2 linked regions of the Homo sapiens genome follow. The protein of the gene in region 1 purifies or fractionates together with the protein of each later gene. This does not show direct contact. Each region holds a gene or a part of one and is shown on either strand. Other genes may lie near its edges. The genes, in order: TTLL7 and ZMYM1.

Evidence for each region.
Region 2: the proteins of TTLL7 (region 1) and ZMYM1 purify together in Homo sapiens (affinity purification with mass spectrometry; 2 studies listed by BioGRID and IntAct, with this or other methods). This does not show direct contact.

Annotation. Positions count from the first base shown.
Region 1 is NC_000001.11:83,994,321-84,004,457, forward strand, and holds the start of TTLL7 (tubulin polyglutamylase TTLL7), read right to left. Parts: upstream 4,813-10,137; 5' UTR 4,611-4,812; intron 1-4,610. UniProt on the Homo sapiens protein: Polyglutamylase which modifies tubulin, generating polyglutamate side chains of variable lengths on the gamma-carboxyl group of specific glutamate residues within the C-terminal tail of tubulin.
Region 2 is NC_000001.11:35,094,900-35,105,165, forward strand, and holds part of ZMYM1 (zinc finger MYM-type protein 1), read left to right. Parts: intron 1-919; coding exon 920-992; intron 993-2,417; coding exon 2,418-2,667; exon of another isoform or gene 2,668-4,548; intron 4,549-4,921; exon of another isoform or gene 4,922-4,943; intron 4,944-9,395; coding exon 9,396-9,570; intron 9,571-9,657; coding exon 9,658-9,870; intron 9,871-10,266.

The sequences.
Region 1 (10,137 bases):
ACTTAATGGCCTGCCTACCTCAATGGATTCCCAGCCTTGAAAGAGAGTGGAGGTAGGACAGTGAGGAAGCTCAGGTGAGAACCTGGAGGAGCAAGTCAGGAGCCCAAAGGACCCGTCCAACACTGGGCCCCTGCCCTTCTCATTGCAAGAAGGTAGTGCCAAGTATCCCTACAATGAATAGAGGAAACTGAAGCACAGTCTCTCTCCTGCATGAGGGGAATTTCCTCTGGTGGAAGGATACTGGGAACAAGGGGAGGGGGAGCATCTGAATGCTGAGAAGAGATGTTGGGAACTTTATGCATCTGACAATCACTGTTCTCAAAGGTCATCTCTGGCAAATGTACAGGGGAGGCAGGAGAGGTCTTTAATGTCTGTCAACTGTCCCTCCCTTACACCTTATACCTTGTGCCCAGGACTTCTGCTCAGACCTAAGCAGAGGTCCCAAATTCCTGCTCTCACCTTTGTGAATTCCCCAAATTAGAGTGCAAAAGTGAGCTCACAGCTGTGCCTTGCAATATCAGGACCCTGAAGCTGGAGACCTGGGAATCTGATATAAGAGGATAGAATAAACTGAAATTTGAAGGAGATAGATATGTGTGTTGTGGGTGAGGGAATGCAGAGGTTTACAGCTGAAGTCCACAAATACAACACTGGAACCAGAAAGTAGTCTATCACATATTCTCCTTCTCTGACTATCAACTCTTACTCACTCTCACCAAGCCTGTTCTCCAACTTAGTATCTTCTCTCCTCAGTAACACCAACTGCCTGCCTTTCTCCCAGTCTCCATGATTTAATCAGTCTTTAGTCTAATCAAAAGAAGTTGCTTGAAAGACTATAATCTGAGGAGCCACAGACAAGATTGGGTGTTATGAATTATTAATATGCAAATATTCTATAATCAACATGTAAGTATTCCAAATTGAACACTGGGAATTGATACAGTTTGGATATGGGTCCCTATCCAAATCTCATGTTGAATTTTATTCCCCAGTGTTGGAGGTGGGGGTGGGAAATATTTGAATCCTGGGGACATATCCATCATGAATGGCTTAATGCATCCCTTTGGCGGTAAGTGAGCGCTCACTCTGAGTTCTCACAAGATCTGGTCACTTAAAGTGTGTGGCACCACCCCCTCACTCTCTCTCTTGCTCCTGCTTTCTGCTATGTGACGTGCCTGCTCCCCCTTCCCCTTCAACATGATTGGACGCTTCCTAAGGCCTCCCCAGAAGCAGATGCTGCCATGCTTCCAGTACAGCCTGCAGAACTGTGAGCCAATTACACCTCTTTTCTTATAAATTACCTAGTTTCAGGTATTTATTTATAGCAATGCAAGAATGGCCTAATATAAGAACTCAGTAGTTTCAAAACTTGCTTAAAATAGTGCAACTTCAAGACCTCATACCCTTTAACCCAGAAATTTTATTTCTGAGACTCTATGCAAAGGAACTAATATTCAAAATACAAAAAAAAGCATACGCACAAAGATGTTCATCACAGTGCTATTATTATCATCAATAATTGTTTATTATGATGTCATCAATAGTGACAATGAGGAACAATTAGGCAATGATAATACATCTACCAAATGGAAAATTATGTAGTCATTTTTAAGCCTGCTATTAGGCATTTTAAACCTAGTATTAAGCCAGTTGTAATTAAATGAAAACTAAAGTTATAGAATTTTAAATTTAAAAATAATATAAAAGTAATATAGATACCATAATTAAAACTACGCATGAAAAAAGTGGAAAGAAACATGTCAAAAATGAATAGTGATTGTCTTTAGTTGGTCAAATTATGAGGGTGTTTTTTTCCTTTTTATATTCTTAAACTTTCCAAATTGTTCATAATTATCTAATGGGGGCCGGAGCTAAAAGGCAAATTCCTTTGGAAGAGGAAAAATTGTACTTGCACAGAAAACTTTTTCTCAGTTTAGTTGACAATCCTTTTAGTACCCAGGAAACAGACCATTTCCTGGAAGGGGACTCGGGGCAACAGATATGGAGAATGTAAGAAAGAGAAATGATTAACAGATCAGAAACAGATCTCACTGTCTGACATTCAAGTTTCTTCATGATCTTTCACCATGTATCCAAACAGTAGATGAGCACTTCTTAGCTGAACCTTTATGTGGCTTTCTCTTTGCCTATCAGAATCCTTCCAGTCTCTGAGACTGATTTAATTCACTTCAACCCATGAAGACTTTCCTGATCCTCTGATCATCCAAGGCTCTACTATTTCTCTTTTCTCTTAAGGTACCGCTATAGCAGTAGGTCTGCACCACCCTTTTCTGGTATTAAGCCAATTCTAAGTTATTTGTTAATTACTCACGTGTAAGTAAAATTTCCCCTGCTAGACTTTAAGTTCCTTGAAGTGGGGAATTTAGATGGTTTGCAGACTGTAGTCATTGGACAGAGGAGAGAGAGCAGTTCTAAAGCCAAGTTGGTATTATATTCATACTCTCAGTGATGTCATCTAAGTAAAATGTGCTGTCTCTGTTTTAAAATGTTGCTGCTGACCATCCATCACCAGGACATGCACTTTCCTTTTTTTTTTTTTAACAGCAGTGGTATTGTATTTTTGCTTATTCATTCATGCCAGTTCTGCTGTCCCCCTTAGGATTAAACAGATTGGATTACAAGATGCCTTGCCAAGGTTCAGGATATAGGTTATAGCCATGTAAAGAACAAAATGAAATGACTTTTAGGAATCAAACTCAAGACTCTTCACAAGACCCCACTTCTCATACTCTTGTTTGAACAACAAATATAAATTTGTGCCTCCATTTTATGTCCTTATTTAGGCAGTGGACTTTATCAATACCCCCGTTAACTTGAAAAAGAATTCTCCAATGCAAATGGTTCAATACTTTAGAAATGACATACTAAGATGACTCTGTTCCTGCCTACCATCAATACTATGTGAGTATTTAGAGATAATGAGCATCTGTACTATAGCAACCTGCCTCTTGAGACATAAACAAGAGATGCATTTCTTAAGAAAAAATCTGTAAGTCGCTAATGAAAGCAAGTCAAAGGACCCATCAACGGGCGAAGAAAGACCTAGCATCCATTATTTTTACAGAAGGAGCATAGAAGGTCAATATAATTGTTGACTCTTAACGGCAGGGTAACAACAAACTAATTCAGTTTCCCACTATATAAGAACTACATTTTACTACAACACTCATATTTCTAAACTGACTAAGAGTCAAGGCTTGTCCAAATTCCATGGCTTACTGAGTGGTCTTGAACCTTCTCTGAATTTTGTTCCTTAGTCTGTAAAATGGAGTTATCACCTGTTATGCAATATCACAGAGTTGTAATGAATCAAGTAACATTATCTTAGTATGGGTTCACCTGTCACCCTATTGTGGGGTGCAGTTCAGTCGCACACCTCATGAACTAAGTAACTATTATTACTGTAAATGTCTCCCTAACATTTAAGACAGAAAAAGATTTCCAGAGTTCTTCTTACGTTTTTAATCGACTTCTCCAACACTTGAGCATCCACCAAATATCACTGCCAAAAATGTGCTGAACATCTCCTGTTATGACCTCACTCTCCTATGTAGTGTTGTTCACATATTTTTTGCCATAAGCTTTCTAAGAAAATAGATTATTTTTCACATGATTCAAAGCATCTTTCTTTCATATTGAAGGAGCAATAATTCCTTATGCAGAAAGTTTACAGGTTGTTGTTGCTGTTGTTTGAGATTACTCCTCAATTAATTAATTCTATGTTTAATATCTAATAGAGCATATATATGTACACTTGGACACACTCCATTAATACAGTGGAAAATCCATGGACTATAGAGTCAGGAAAACCTATATTCGAATTCCTGTTCTGTGACCTTGAGAATGTAATTTAACTTCCCTGCTCCTCAGTTTCCACATTTGGTTCTGGATTATGATGATTTAATAAAATACGATATATAAAAGTAAGTGCCTAGGCTATGAAGGTATTATTTCCTACCTCTCCTAAATCTTTTCTTTCTATGCCAGGATCAATCAAACCCACCCAGAATACAAGGCAACTTTCATAGGGTATCTTTTACATCAGTCGAGGGAACGCTGCGATGTGATATAAGTGGATGATGGCATGAGTCAGGCATCCAACAGAGCAAGATGTGGAGAAAGTGAGAGGTACCTACAAGGGCCCTAGACTTCACTCGCATGTGCGAAAAGGGCATTTTGATACCCTTTCAAGAATGCCCCGCATACTCGCGGAGGCTTATACCACGATGTGGGAAAACGACGGAATTACAGAATAAACCAGCAGGGAGCCTCCTCGTTCACCCAACCCGACCCCGCCCGCCCGAGTCTCCCATCTGGAGCCTAAAAACTGAGCTGAGATCACAGCAACTGACCCCGTCCCCTCCGCCCTCTCCCTCCCCCATTCTGCCCAAACCTCTCAGGGCACGAATGGTGCTGAATCATTTGCACGAACGCAGCAGCTCCCCGTTCCGCGGCTCCCAGCGGGGACGGTGTCCCCAGAGCAGTGACAGTCCGGGGATGGGGGCCCGGAAAGAGGGCCAGGGCGGAGCCTTTGGGGACGTGGGGACATGGAAGGGGGTCGGGGGAGGATGGCGGCAGCAGGTACTCACCCGGGTGAGGAAAGCCCAGCCCGGGTCCTCGCGTCCCCGCTGCAAGCGGTCCCCCAGGTGCTCCCGCGCCTCGCAGCTTCCCCGTGGGCGGCCGCCCCGACTCGGCAGCCTGCACTGGTGGTCCGGTGCTCTCCTCCGCCCGCCCACCGCCCGTGGCAGCCACGGCTCGGGACTCCGGTGCTCGACGCGGAGTGCCTGGAACAGCTGTCGCTGCCCAAGCGGGTGGCGGCTACCGACGGGCCAGACCATTCGCCTGCTGCGGCCGGGGGTGCACGACGTGCCGAGAGGCGCGGGCGCCGGGGGCGGCGACGGTTGGGAGGAACAAAGGACTCGGGGAATCCTCTGCCCCCTCGGAGTCAGGAGGTCCTGGGGACAGGAGGGATCAACGGAGGGGCCGCTGCCTCTTCTGGGGGTTTACTGAAGACACTGCTCGAGCTTTCCCGGGCCACACACACCCCCCCCCCGTTTGCCTTGGTCCCGCTCGGGGCTCCTTTAGAACGCGGCAAACAGAGGACTTAGCAACGCGAGCGCCTGGGCGGCGCCCCTCCTCAGAGATGCGAGAGGCGCTGGCCTGAGCGCCTCCGGCCACCTCCTTCTACCTCCGGGCCCTAGGCGCCCGATCCACCTGCCTATCTGACCACAGACATCTTCCCACAAAACAGTGGAGCTTTTTGAATCTTTGAAGAGAGTCTTCAGATCTTTTATCTAAGCATCTTTGTGAAGCAAAGAATAAACGGGTATCTGAGGCCAGCTCGAAAGTTAGGAAATAAAATCAGGTGGGGCCCCATCCCGTAGATGCTGAGGGACAGCTCTGACCTAGAGTTCCTGCTAAGCAAATGTTGAACCACGGCAGTTGTAAAAAAATGTAGATTTAGGAAGCCATTTCGAGATAAAGATTTACAGAAGATTGTTGCAGAAATTAAAGAATATTCGAGGTTCATTGTTCACCATTTTAGAGTTGCGTGTCTTGAAAACGGGAAGGCAATCATGTCTTCTCATAAAATGAATTGTATAGAACTGGAAGAAGTCCTAACACATGAATTCCTTAGACTTTTGTGGTCCCTGCTTCTGTCACGCTGGGTTCACACAGGTTCATTTCAGAGCATGGTGAAGATCAGGACAAGTGTACAGTTTTCCCTGTAGAAAAAAAGAAAAGATAGAACAGAATTGGCAACTACCTATAAAATGTGATTAAAGGTAGGAAAAAAAAAGGCCCTCCAAGTGCATCCCAAAAAATATAAAATTTCACAATTTAAAGTTTTGTCCTTCGTTGAGTAAATCAACATAAATTCAGCACTTTCTATAGACCACTGTGCTGAGAATAGTCTCATTTTCATTTCTTCATTTATTCTTCTAAAAACTCCTGTGAGATTGGTAACCTGCAATAGACCTCCATACAGCCTTGCCAGCATTGGGAACTGATCTGGTCAGTGAGGGCATCTTCTCATAAAGGACACTGGTGAGAAACTGGGCTCAGGGTTTGTCGTGCTGGGTTAGTCTCACGATCATAAGCGGCAGAGCAGACATTGCCACCTGGAGTTTTTGACTTGTTCCTTTCCCCTAGAATGCCTCTGAGAACGATATACATTAAACCGTGTCACATCTGTGATTGCAACTTGAATGTGAGTCTGTTTATCCTTCCTTTGTGAGAAGGGGTTTTAGAATGGAGAGGGGGCAGTTAGGTGTCCAGGGTAGGCATCACCCTGAGGCAAGAAGAGTGATCAGAAAGAAGAAGCTGGACTTCACCCAGAACTAGCCGAACATCAGCGTCACAATACACTGTCAAGGTCACATGAGGTTGAAGAGGAATTCTCCACTGCCTTCTTGTTAATCATCTTTACATCATTATTTTCACTGTATTACACTTTACACTATGCATGCACTATTACTACATTACATGTTATCATTCTTCCATTCCTAGGAAGGGGCAAGAATTTTTCAATAAACCTATTATCATGGGTCCTCATATACCTTATCAAAAAAAATGTTAAGTAACAGAGGTATTAGCAACACTTAACGTCACCTCAAGAAAGCTTTTTGAGAAATCAGGAATAAAATTAAATTGTTTCTGTATGATATGATATTGTTACTATGTTAATGGTTGTTGTAAAGATTCACACGTCAGCAGCAGCAAAACAGAAATCCCCAAAGTTGCATGTTGCCGAGGAGCAGGAGCATTGGGTCCCCAGTGGCCAGACTGGCCTCAGGCTCAGAAATGTGTGATTCTTCTCTCCATGTGCAGTTGTTTCACTTTCAAAGGCAACAACAGGAACAGAACACATGTAGATGAGGCGTCTTCTGAGTTAGTGCTTTATGTCAGATGTTAGATGATAGGGATATAGAAAGGAATTTAGAGCCTTATGATTTGTGGTGCGGATGGGCCAGTGACATCTGCAGCAATCTGTTTGTATAAGTTGACACTCTTGGAACATATGTTTCTGAATGAAGAAAGGGGAATTTTTGTGCTGGCAGCCTTGGGAAATTGTCAAAAGAAGTGGAAGGAATGGTGTGATGCCTGCATTCCCTGCTTTCCTCAGAGTCCTCAAATGGTTTTGAGCCTGCTGTGTAAAGAACTTAGGGCCAGAAGCTAAATAATCATCTTCCCCACAAATGACTTTGTGAAATTTAAGTTCTAAGAAGTACTACTTTAGGCCTGGTGACAAATGACAGCATGGAGCTGGCAAGAGAGCCATTCTCTCACCCAACCTGAAATAGACCTCCATACAGCCTTGCCAGCGATAGGAACTGATCTGCCCAGTGAGGGTATATTCTCATAAAGAACACTGGTGGCCGATACAAGGTCAAGGTAACTTAAGTAGGAGCCCAGAGCAGTAAAGCAGGAGTGGTATTATTCCTGAGCACCTGAAAGACACTGCTGAGGATTTCTTGCTGCAAATGATGGAGACTAGGGAGGCACTGCAGGGTCAAGGGAATCATTATTAAACTCAAGATGATTGTTAAACCTTATTTAGGCACCGATATTAACATGAACTCATTTGTATTCACAAACTAGCATGATCTGGGAACATTCCAATATTACTTTTTAAATGATACTAATAAGAAGAGAGCTAGAGAGAAAGAGAATACTTAATGCCTTTGATAAAACTGCATTGTGAGCCACAAAATGTTAAATCTTGATGCAAGATATTCCAGTACCTGCTATGTGTTGGTCTCTTACCAAAGCATGTGGTGACATTAACCTCTCAACTTATTCTTGCTGAAGAGAGTGCTTAATTGTGTTGTTTCTCTTTGCGTTTAGCTAACACTTATTAAATCATTAGTGTTTGAGTAACTAGTATTATGTGAAGTAAGTACTATTATCACTCCCATTTTATAAATGAAGAAACTGAGAATTACAAGGGTGTATTAATTTGTCAAAGGTAGCACAATTGGAAAGAGACAAAGCTGGATTTCAAACACTAACCAATACATGACGTGAATATCAGCATACTTTTACTGTCTCCTGCTATAGAGAACATGTACATTGCATGTTTCTCTGCAGCAGAATCTATTTTTTATTTATTATTAAAAACCTGTTTTCAACTCTCATTTCTAAGAGGAAATGAGTCATTTCCCACAGAAGATTTAAACATTGGATACCCTTTTCTAGGTTTCTGTGCTCAGAAAAGAGACCCTGAATTTAAGAATAAGAAGTGAACCTTGTAACATAAACTTGACCAGTGATGCCTAAAATTCTTGCTGCAAAATTATGATTGCAGGAACTCCTGCATGAGACTCTGGAAACTAGATTCCTATGAAGTTCTGTAGGTGGTTCTAATGTACAGCCAAGTTTGACCAGACCATACTGGACAAAAACAATATGGGGCCTACAAAAAATAACATTCAGGCTTCTAGACTTAACCCCTTAATCCCACCTTTTATTAAGAAGGAAATAAGAGGCTGTTATTTAAAACCTACATTATGTAATTTTACATTTATCATATAAAATGTATTTATTAAAGGGTTTAGAATTTTTCTCAGTGTTGTTTTTGTCATTCTCAACAAATCTTCAAAAAGCCCCAAATTTAAAATGATACTCATTCAAAATTACTTTTATATATAGATATTGGACTTTAAGCCCTTTTTAATTATTATACGGCATTTTATATAAGACAAAAAGTCATATTGCATTAGACTTTTGTTTTAATTTTTGGAGAATTTACATGACAGTAAGTCATTTCATCCAAGAAGATAATAAGCTTTTCTAGTTTATGTTTTTTCATTTCCCAATCATATTTTTATAATTTTGCTTATATATGTTCTGTAACTTTCTTACCAAAGTTGTACCAAATTTTTTATAGCACTTGTATTCTGAATGAAATGTTCTTTCCATTTCCTTTTGTAGGGTCTTCTACCAGAACAGAGAGATGATGCTTTCTGTAATTTATTTTGTATTCATTCAGTGCACCAAATTATCTTATTACTTGTTTTTTCATGAGTCCCTTGGATTTTCCAAGAAAACAGGCATATCAGCAATATCAAGAACTTTGTTTCTGGCTGGGCACAATGGCTTATGCCAGTAATCCCAACACTTCGGAAGGCCAGCGTGAAAGGAACACTTGACCCCAGGAATTTGAGACCAGCCTGGGCAACATAAGGAGATCTGTCTCTATAAAAAATAAGAAATTAGCTGTGCGTGGTGGCACCAGCCTACAGTCCCAGCTACTCAGGAGGCCAATGTGGGAAGATCCCTTAGTCCAGGAGTTCAAGGCTGCAGTGAGCCTTGATCACGCCACTGGCTCCACTCCGAGCAACAGAGTGAGACTGTTTATAAAATATATAAAAATGTATATTTGTTATAATTTATACCAGTTATTTTATTTATATTTGTTAGAATCACTAATGTAAGTGATTGTGGTGATGCCTGATTCCAGATTTTAAGTGAAAGATTTAATTTTTGTGATTTGGGATGATGTTCGCTATTGGGCTTTCCTTTATTATAAAAGAAATTTTTTCTGATTCTATTTTGCTTAAAGTCACTTGACTTTTATCTGATGCCTTTCCACAACTTATTGATAATGGTTGGGCTTTTTCCCTTTAATTTTTAATGTAATCAATATGTAGCTAGACTTCCTGATATTGAACCGCCTTTTCATTCCTCTAATAAAGCCTATTTTTTCACACCATGTTATTCACGTGATTCATTCCTCTATTGTATTCTCTGTTATTTAAACATTTGGCAGCTATATTCAGAAATGAAATCAGCCTGTACTTTTAATTGTTGTTTTACTCCTTCTTAGGCTTTGGTACTCAAGTTAGTCTGGCTTCATGAAATTAACTGGGGAACTTTCCATTTTTTTCTAAGACTTACAATAGTTTAAATAATATTGGAATTATCCGTTCTTTAATAGTTAGATTAAAAATTCAGCTGTGAATTCATCTGCCTGTGGCCTTCTTCAATAGCAGATCATTAATCACTTCTCCAATCTCTTCTGTAATAATTGGTCTATTCAAGTTTTTCACTTCTTCTGTGTCAGTTGTGATCATGTATATTTTCCTAGGAAAGTATTCACTTCTTCTAGGTTTT
Region 2 (10,266 bases), about 49 Mb from region 1:
TTCTAATGAAAGAAAAAAATCACTAAAAAGGGTAATTTATTTGTAGTATTCTATTTAGAAATAGCCTAAAGTAGATTAATATTAAATAAGGGTATGCTTACCATTGAGTTGTTAACACTGGGGAATGTTACTCATCTAGGAACTATCTATTGCTTCTTCATGCCATGGACATTCAGGCATAGATCAAGTTTAGATATGGTGGCTATGAAATTGCCTCCTGCTCTGAAAAAATTGTCCTTTGTAAGAATCATTCTGCCCAATTAACAATTTCTTGGGTTAAGGTCTTTATGAAGACAATTAGCTGTTAATGATTAGAGCAAGCAGGGAAGGCTGGGTGTGGTGGCTCATTCCTGTAATCCCAGCATTTTGGGAGGGTGAGACAGGCAGATCACTTGAGGCCAGGAGTTCAAGACCATGGGCAACATCTCCACTAAAAATTAAAAAATTAGCCGGGCATGGAGGCATGTGCCTGTAGTCTCAGCTACTTGGGAGGCTGAGGCAGAAGAATCACTTGAACCCAGAAGTAGGTTATAGTGAGACGAGATCGCGTCACTGTACTCCAGCCTGGGTGACAGAGTGAGATCTTGTCTCAAAAAAAAAAGAAAAAAAAAAAAAAACAAGTAGGGAAAATAGTTGTAATTCAATATGTCTGCTCCCTATTGATAGTGAATGGAGGGATTTTGTTGACAAAGATTTTGATGTCACACCTGGATACCATAGAAAATAATGTATTGGGTGATTAGTGTTGTCAGCCAAAGAGCACCAAAAGGGTAGTGCATACCTGTGTATTTTGGTTCAATTCAGTTATACAATTCATTGACCAGACTTGACCACAATTTATCATTTTCTGTTGAATGACTGGTTGTCTTAAATTCATTGTATTCACTATTTTTAATTATTATTTTTTTTTTCTTTTTAGGAGTATTGTCATAGGCAACAGTCCAGAACTCAGGAGAATGAACTGAAAATAAATGCTGTGTTTTCAGAGAGTGGTAATAGAATTATTTAAGTTAGTTATGTTTATTCAGACCAATACGACAGCTGATTCATTCTTTTTTAATGCCTTTGAATATTGCTTTGTTTGTGTTGGGTTTTAAGTCCAGGAGAAGTAACCTGTAAGAAAATGAAAGAGAGGCCGTGCACAGTGGCTCACACCTGTAATCCCAGCACTTTGGGAGGCCGAGGCAGGCGGATCATGAGGTCAGGAATTCGAGACCAGTTTGGCCAACATAGTGAAACCCTGTCTCTACTACAAATACAAAATTAGCCAGGCGTGGTGGCGCATGCCTGTAATCCCAGCTACTCAGGAGGCTGAGGCAGGAGATTTGCTTGAACCTGGGAGGCAGAGGTTGTGGTGAGCCAAGATTGCACCACTGCACTCCAGCCTGGGCAACAGAGCGAGACTCTGTCTAAAAAAAAAAAAAAAGAGAAGAAAATCAAAGAGGCTGGGCATGGTGCCTCATGCCTGTAATCCCAACATTTTGGGAGGCCAAGGTGGAAGGATCAGCTTGAGGGCAGGAGTTTGAGACCAGCCTGGGCAACATAGCGAGATCCTGTCTCTACAGAAAATTTAAAAACCAGGTGTGGTGGTGCATGCCTATAGTCCCAGCTACTTGGGAGGCTGAGGCGGGAGGTTTTTTTTTTTTTTCTGAGATGGAGTTTCCGCTCTTGTTGCCCAGGCTGGAGTGCAATGGCACGATCTTGGCTCACTGCAACCTCTGCCACCCAGGTTCAAGCAGTGCTCCTGCCTCAGCCTCCCAAGTAACTAGGATCACAGGCCCGTGCCACCACACCCAGATAATTTTGTTTGTTTTGAGACGGAGTCTCGCTCTCGCTCTGTTGCCAGGCTGGAGGGCAGTGCATGATCTCGCCTCACTGCAGCCTCCACCTCTCAGGTTCAAGCGATTCTCCTGCCTCAGCCTCCCGAGTAGCTGGGACTACAGGCATGTGTCACCATGCCCAGCTAATTTTTATAGTAGAGACGGGGTTTCACCATATTGCCCGGGATGGTCTCAATCTCTTAAACTCGTGATCCACCCACCTTGCCTCCCAAAATGCTGGGATTACAGGCGTTAGCCACCACACCTGGCTAATTTTGTATTTTTAATTGAGATGGGGTTTCACCATGTTGGCCAAGCTGGTCTTGAACTCTGACCTCAGGTGATCCACCTGCCTTGGCCTCCCAAAGTGCTGGGATTACAGGCGTGAGCCACCGCACCAGGTGGTGAGAGGGTCACTTGAGTACAGGGTGTCAAGGCTGCAGTGAGCCATGATCGTATCACTACACTGCCTAGAGTGCAAAAGAGGGCAACAGAACAAGACCCTGTCTCTAAAAAAAGAAAGAAAGAAAATAAAGGAATGCCTACTTAATTTTGTGTAAATAACAATTTTTTTTTCTCCCTCTTGTGTTTTTATAGCTTCACAGTTGACTGCAGGCATTCAGCTTTCTCTGGCATCATCTGGCGTGAATAAAATGCTTCCTTCAGTTTCAACCACAGCTATTCAGGTTTCCTGTGCTGGTTGTAAAAAAATTCTCCAGAAGGGGCAAACTGCTTATCAGAGGAAAGGATCTGCTCAACTTTTCTGCTCCATACCATGCATCACTGAATACATTTCATCTGCCAGTTCACCAGTTCCTTCTAAGAGAACTTGTTCAAACTGCTCAAAGTATATAATTCTAAATTATGCCCCCTTTTATTTCCCTACCTTGTTCTTGATCATAGTCTTAGTTGTAATTTCTACATTTTCTTTTTTTATTTTTTGAGACTGAGTTTGACTCTTGTTGCCCAGGCTGGAGTGCAGTGGCACGATCTCGGCTCACTGCAACTTCCACCTCCTGGGTTCAAGCGATTCTCCTGCCTCAGCCTCCCAAGTAGCTGGGATTACAGCCATGCACCACCACGCCCGGCTAATTTTGTATTTTTTAGTAGAGATGGGGTTTCGTTCGCCATGTTGGCCACGCTGGTCTTGAACTCCTGACCTCAGGTGATCCGCTTGCCTTGGCCTCCCAAAGTGCTGGGATTACAGGTGTGAGTCACTGCGCCCGGCCATTTTCATTTCTTTTGAAGACGTGTCGTCTTGGTTTAGTAAAAAGAAGTTTTTTCTACTTTTAGTTCCTCTGATGGATTCTGTAGAAATATTTTTTTTTGCAGAAATTAATGTGAAAAGTACTGTTTCTCTTCACCTTTACTCTTTTCATTTGAAATTCTCTGTAAATGGGATTATTGTTTATCCATTCTGTTCTATTTAACTGTATAGGGAGCAACCTACTAAAAAATTAATCCTATGACAGTTAGTTTGGATTTTCCAAGATGTGGAATAATATTATATTTCTTTTATAATGGTAAATGAAGTGATTCTTTTGAAAAATTGATGGCCATAGATAAACCTACATGTCTCTATGTAATCTTTTAAAAATTTATGTGAGAATGTGTGAAGAATCAGTGTCATTTTGGCTTTGAGAGTCCTAAGGCTGTATAATTATGGTTGTTAGCACTTAGGATATGCTAATTTTTAAATGTTCTTGTTCAGAACAAGAAAATCCATAGGCAACCACAGTGCTTCTAAATATAACAAATTTCTTTCAAATAATACTTGTTTTGGACTCAGGTTGCCATAATTTGAATTTTGCTTCTTCTGTTTAGTTATATTTTACTACTCAAAGTTTCATCCCTGAGTTGCTAGATCAGCATCACCCAAGAGTTTGTTAGAAATGCACTTTCTCAGGCTGGGAGCAGTGGCTCACGCCTGTTATCCTAGCACTTAGGGAGGCCGAGGTGGGCAGAATGCCTGAGCTCAGGAGTTTGAGACCAGCCTGGCAACACAGTGAAACCCTGTCTCTACTAAAATACAAAAAAATTAGCTGAGCACTGTGGCATGCACCTGTAATCCCAGCTACTTGGGAGGCTGAAGCAGGACAATTGCTTGAACCCGGGAGGCTAAAGTTGCAGTAAGCTGAGATCAGGCCACTGCACTGACTGTCTCAAAAAGAAAAAAAAAGAAATGCACTTTCTCAGGTCTTACCCAGACCTGCTGATTCAGAACTGCATTTATCGCCATGTGATTCCTATACATGCTAAAGTTGGAGCAGTATTGAGAACTTCTTTGTTACTTAGTATTCGTATCTGTTTTTGATAAATGTACAAAAGAATTATGAGCATTAAATAGTATATTTAAGTGGTCAGAACAATACCAGCATGTAGTAAGAACTCAATAAATGTTAACTATTATTATTCTCTTAACAAACTCACAAACCCTTTTGATGGGTTTGCTTCAGCTCCTCTGGCTGCTGCTTCAGTTATTATCTGTTGCTTCAGGTCTTATTCCATGGCACGTTACTTACCATTCTCTTTTGCTTTTCAACCCTTCAATACTATACTAGTCTTTTGTCTTTTTACTTTTTTGCTATGGGCCATATAGTACTCTCTTCAGCCTGCTTTCTCTCCCTGCAGAGTCATAAAACTGGAAGGGACCTTAGAGACTCACTACACATCTTCAGCAGATGTCCCAGACAGATTGAAAAAGGCTGAAGCAGGAAAGATTTAGTGTGTAAGTTCTCCTAGGCATGGAAATCCAATATGAGTAAAAATCTGAGATAAGTTTTACTTCCTCTAGAATAAAATTTTTTTATAAAAAATATTATATTGTAGTGGGTAGAAAGATGGTAGTAAATTTTAGGCTGGAAAAGGCCATCCATGATTCAGAGTAGGCTGCTTTTTTCAAAACTTAAAAATTCCACATTAATTAGCCTTTTACATAAATTTTAGCTATTCTTCTGGGGTTTTTTTATCTTCCAGTGAAACTATCCTGAACTGAAAATAATTTTCAGTTACTTATTTATTTATTTTTGCAGAGACAGAGTCACTATGTTTCCCAGGCTGATCTTAAACTCCTGAGTTCAAGTGATCCTCCTGCCTTGGTCTCCCAAAGTGCCGGGATTACAGGTGTGAGCCACCGTGCTGATTTTCAGTTTTGTTTGTTTGTTTGTTTTGTTTTGTTTTGTCTGAGACGGAGTCTCGTCTCAATCTGTCACCCAGGCCAGAGTGCAATGGTGCAATCTTGGCTTACTGCAACCTCCACCTCCTGGGTTCAAGCAATTCTCCTGCCTCAGCCTCCCAAGTAGCTGGGATTACAGGCGTGTGCCACTGTGCCCAGCTAGTTTTTTTATTTTCAGTAGAGATGCAGTTTCGCCATGTTGGCCAGGCTGGTCTCGAACTCCGGACCTCAGGTGATCTGCTTTCCTCGGCCTCCCAAAGTGCTGGGATTATAGGTATGAGCCACCACGCCCTGCCTGATTTTTAGTTACTTTTTAAGATTTCTTTTATAGGAATGATTTAATATCTGTTTTGAGTCAATGCACTTTTTATTCTATTTCATGGACCAAATGGAAGATCCCTTTGAAGATGACATTTTAAATCTTATTAGAAAGATGCGATTTGTGGGCCAAGCGAGGTGGTTCACACCTGTAATCCCAGCACTTTGGGAGGCCAAGGCAGGAGAATCACTGGAGGTCAGGAGTTCGAGACCAGTCTAGCCAACACCACAAATCCCTGTCTCTACTAAAAATATAAAAATTAGCCAGGCGTGGTGGTGTGTGCCTGTAAACCCAGCTACACCAGTGACTGAGGCAGGAGAATTGCTTGAACCCAGGAGACGGAGGTTGCAGTGAGCTGAGATTGTACGACTGCACTCCAGCCTGGGCAACGGAGTGAGACCCTGTCTCAAAAAAAAAAAAAAAGATGTGACTTGTTCTTGGGAACTTTGTATTTAAGAAGTGTCATTTCTTCACTTTAGTATCTCAGTTGGAACCAACCGCAAATCCTGAATGCAATCAATAAAGTCCAAAATAGGCCCCTGCACTAAGGTTTGATTTATTTATCGGAAAGTTGTTCCTAATTTGTTGGCGTTTCTTTTTTTTTTTTGAGACAAGGTCCCTGTCTGTCACCCAGGTTGGAGTGCAGTGGCACCATCTTGGCTCACTGCAGCCTCGACCACCTGGGCTTAAGCAATACTCCCACCTTTACCCTCCCAAGTAGCTGGGATTGCAGGCACATGCCACCCTGCCTGTCCAGTTTTTGTATTTTTTTGTAGAGATGATTTCACCATGTTGTCCAGACTGGTCTTGAACTCCTGGGCTCAAGTGATCCTCCTGGCTTGCCCTCCCAAAGTGCTGGCATTATGGGCGTGAGCCACCGTACCCAGCCAACATTCTTTTTTTTTTTTTTTTTGAGGCGGAGTCTCACCGTTTTGCCCAGGCTGGAGTTCAATAGCGGGATCTCAGCTCACTGCAACCTCCGCCTCCCAGGTTCAAGCGATTCTTCTGCCTCAGCCTCCCTAGTAACTGGGATTACAGGTGCCTATCACCATGCCCCGTTAATTTTTGTATTTTTAGTAGAGATGGGGTTTCACCGTGTTGGCCAGGCTGGTCTCCCAACTCCTGACCTCAGGTATCTGCCTGCCCCAGCCTCCCAGGATTACACATGTGAGCCACCGTGCCTGGCCAACATTCATTTTTCAATTTTTTATAAAGCTTTAGTAGATTCTTAGAAGCCAGCAATCTAGTATGCTGATAGCAATAAAAACTAAGAAGCATTTTCAGACTTCCATGCGTCGCTGATGTAGTTTCTTCTTCCTCCCTTCCCATCTGGCTGGTATCTTTATTCTGTCTGAAAGGTATGCCTCAAATATCTTTACCTTTTGTCTATTCCCACACCATTCCTCACTCTCCTCTTACAACCGCCCACCCCCCAAATTAATTCTTCTGTGGTCTGTGATTTTACAGTGTCGTGTTCATAACTCCCAAAACATTGATCACAAAATACTAATGTTTTTAAATATTTTTAGTAGAGACGGGGTTGGCCAGGCTAGTCTCGAACTCCTGACCTCAAGTGATCTGCCCACCTTGGCCTCCCAAGATTAAAGGTGTGAGCCACCGCGCCTGCTATTAGGTGTATTGATATTTTCTATAGTGGCTGTTCTCAAACTTTCTGGTCTCAGGACTTCTTGTACCCTTAAAAATTATTGAACACCCAAAGAGCTTTAGTTATGTAGATTATGAATATTAACTGTATCAAAAATTAAATGACATTTTAAATGAAAAATACCCATATTTTTAAAAATTGATAAGTATTGTTTTATCAGTTTTGCAAATCACTTTACATCTAGCTGGATTTTTGTATCTGTTTCTGCCTTCACTTTATTGCAAAGTGTTGTTTTGGTTGAAGTCTGAAGAAAACCTGGCCTCATAAATAGGTGATTGGAAAAGGGGGGAGTGTTTTAGTAGCCTTTTAGATCGTTGTGGGTGTTCTTTGATACTACAACCAAAAATCAAGTGGTAGTTTCTTAAAGGCTAGTTGCAATGTGGGATCAAACTTTTTGTACCATGTGGATCAGTGAACTTTTTGCACTCTGTTATGTTAGAATTCGTTAATCTATCTTGTACTTTGAATGGATCTTTTACCCGTGAATGATTTTTGTAATATGCTATTGTAGTTTGGAAAATACTGGTTCACTGAGTTCTGCAGATCTTCTAGATGTTCTCATTTTATTATGCAGTATTTTAAAAATCACCACTAATCTCAGAAAAGTTTTTAAGTTTTGGGTATCGATCAAGTTGAAGTTGGAAGATACAAGTTTTCCAAAATTCTAATTATCACTTGAAAGACAAAATTTTATTGTTGGCGATAAATACTGTCGTTTTACTTGAAGTGACAGTCTCATTTTTTTCATTTTCAAGAAAATATCTGCAGATACCCACTTCTGGATAATAGTTTGTCTTTATTTACAGTAAACTGTTTACAGTACTTTCAAGTAAAAATGTTTTCCATGAAAAAAGTGGCTAATTCATTTATAACTCAACATTTCCATATGGGCTTTTCCTTGAGACAACCATCATCCTTTGGTGTACAGAAGTACTTTATGCTTATGTCCTGTGTTGTCACACGGAATTTTTTTTTCTCACCCTACCACTTGGCCAAGACAGAATATTTTTTAAATGTACTTAAGGATGAAGTTTAAATAATTTAAAATATTTTGCTGTTTCATTGAGTACTTCCTTAAGTGAAACTGATACTTTAAAAAGAATTTTTTTTGGCAGTGAATGTATAGCAGGGAATAACATGAATATTAGCACATTTTGGTGCCACTGCCTTGATTTCTGCTAAGGCTCTGACGGTTTTACCCACCATTGCCTTTTTTCTTTTCCAAATTCATTGAAGTGAAATTTGTATACCAAGAAATTAACCATTTCATTGGCATTTAGTATATTCATAATGTTGTGTGACCATCCCCTCTATCTTGTTCCAAAACATTTCCATCACTTCAAAGTAAAACACCTTAAACACTAAGCAGTTTCTCCTAATTTCCCTCTCCCCCCAGTGCCTGTCAACCACCAGTATGCATTATATCTATAGATTTTATCTATCCTGAATATCTCATGTAAATGGAATCATATATGACCTTTTTGTGACAGGGTATTATTACTCTGTTGCTCAGGCTAGAGTGCAGTGACTTTTTGTGTCTGGTTCTTTCCCTTAGCATAATATTTTCAAGGTTTGTCCATGTTGTAACATGTATCAGTACTTTATTCTTTTTGTTAATAGGCGAATAATATTCCACTGTATGTATGTAACACAATGTGCTTATTCATTCATTCACTTACTGATGAACATTTGGGCTGTTTTCATCTTTTGACCATTGTGAATAGTGCTGTTATGAATATGCACGTACATGTGCTTGTTTGAGTACCTGTTTTCAGTTTTTTTGGGTGTTTACCAAGGAGTGGGATTGCAGGGTCCTACCATTAGCTTTGCAACATCAGTTGCAAAGTGATGTTGCAAACATCAACACGGTGAAAAAGCAAATAACATCTTACTATGAAAATAGTTTTGATCTTGGGGACTCCCCCAGGGATTTGAAGACCATATTTTAAGATTCTCTGTCCTATAGATTCTAGAGTTGCTCATGTGAATATGTGATCTCTCATCATCCCTCGGTTTTCACTAGCACCACCTAATAATACAGGCTGGCTAGTCTCCAAAACTACATCTTCAAAGTCAGGCATGGTGGGATTATGTGCCTGTAATCCTAGCTATGTGGGAGATTGAGGTGGGAGAATCTCTTGAGCCCAGGAATTTGAGGCCAGCTTGGGCAACACAGCAAGACCCTATCTCTTAAAAAACAAAACTGCACTATTAGATGTGCTTTATAATCTGTAATGTATAGATGAGAAAATTAAAATTTAGGGAGTATAAATGTGACAGAACTGGGTACCAAATTCAGGTTTTCTTATTTCAAGGCTAATGTTCTTACTCTAATTTGAGAGGTCATTTCATTTATAAAGAGAAGTTATAATTGTGTTTAAACTGTTTAATGATGTCCTTGTTATTTATTCTTAGAGACATTTTAAATCCAAAGGATGTGATTAGTGTCCAGCTGGAAGACACTACCTCTTGCAAAACTTTTTGCAGCCTATCTTGTCTTTCATCATATGAAGAAAAAAGAAAACCATTTGTTACCATATGTACTAATAGCATTTTGACCAAGTGCAGCATGTGCCAGAAGACTGCTATTGTAAGTTCCAATTATAACCTTTACAGGGATTCTGATGATTCTGCTTAAATATCAGAGTTTTTACTGAATCTTTTTATTAAATCCTAGATTCAGTATGAAGTAAAATACCAAAATGTGAAACATAATCTTTGCAGTAATGCCTGCCTTTCAAAGTTTCACTCTGCTAACAACTTCATCATGAACTGCTGTGAGAACTGTGGCACTTACTGTTACACCAGCTCTAGTCTGTCCCACATACTTCAGATGGAAGGACAGTCTCATTACTTTAATAGTTCAAAGAGTATTACAGCATATAAGCAGGTATGAATAAAGACCTATTGTTTCTTCTATTAACTGGCCTATGAATGGTTTCACTCTAGGAAAATGTGGGAAGTAGTTTTTGGTACCCTTTGGAATAATGTCGATAAGTTGATGAAGATGAAATAGAAGGCTTTTAACGGTTTCTTCTTGCATAAGAATTCATGATAAATGCTATATGGAGATTTTCCTAAATAATCTCAGATCGATTATCTCACCTTAAAGAAAAGGCAGGCAGGCTGGAGCCGGTTTATAAACTAGAAATAAGTATAGCAAAAATAACAATAGTCTGCTGGTCAATAAAACCCAAACACAAAAGTATTTTTGTTTTTATTTTTATGTATTTATTTTATTTCTTTCTTTTTTTTTTTTTTTTTTTTTTTGGTGAGATGGAGTCTT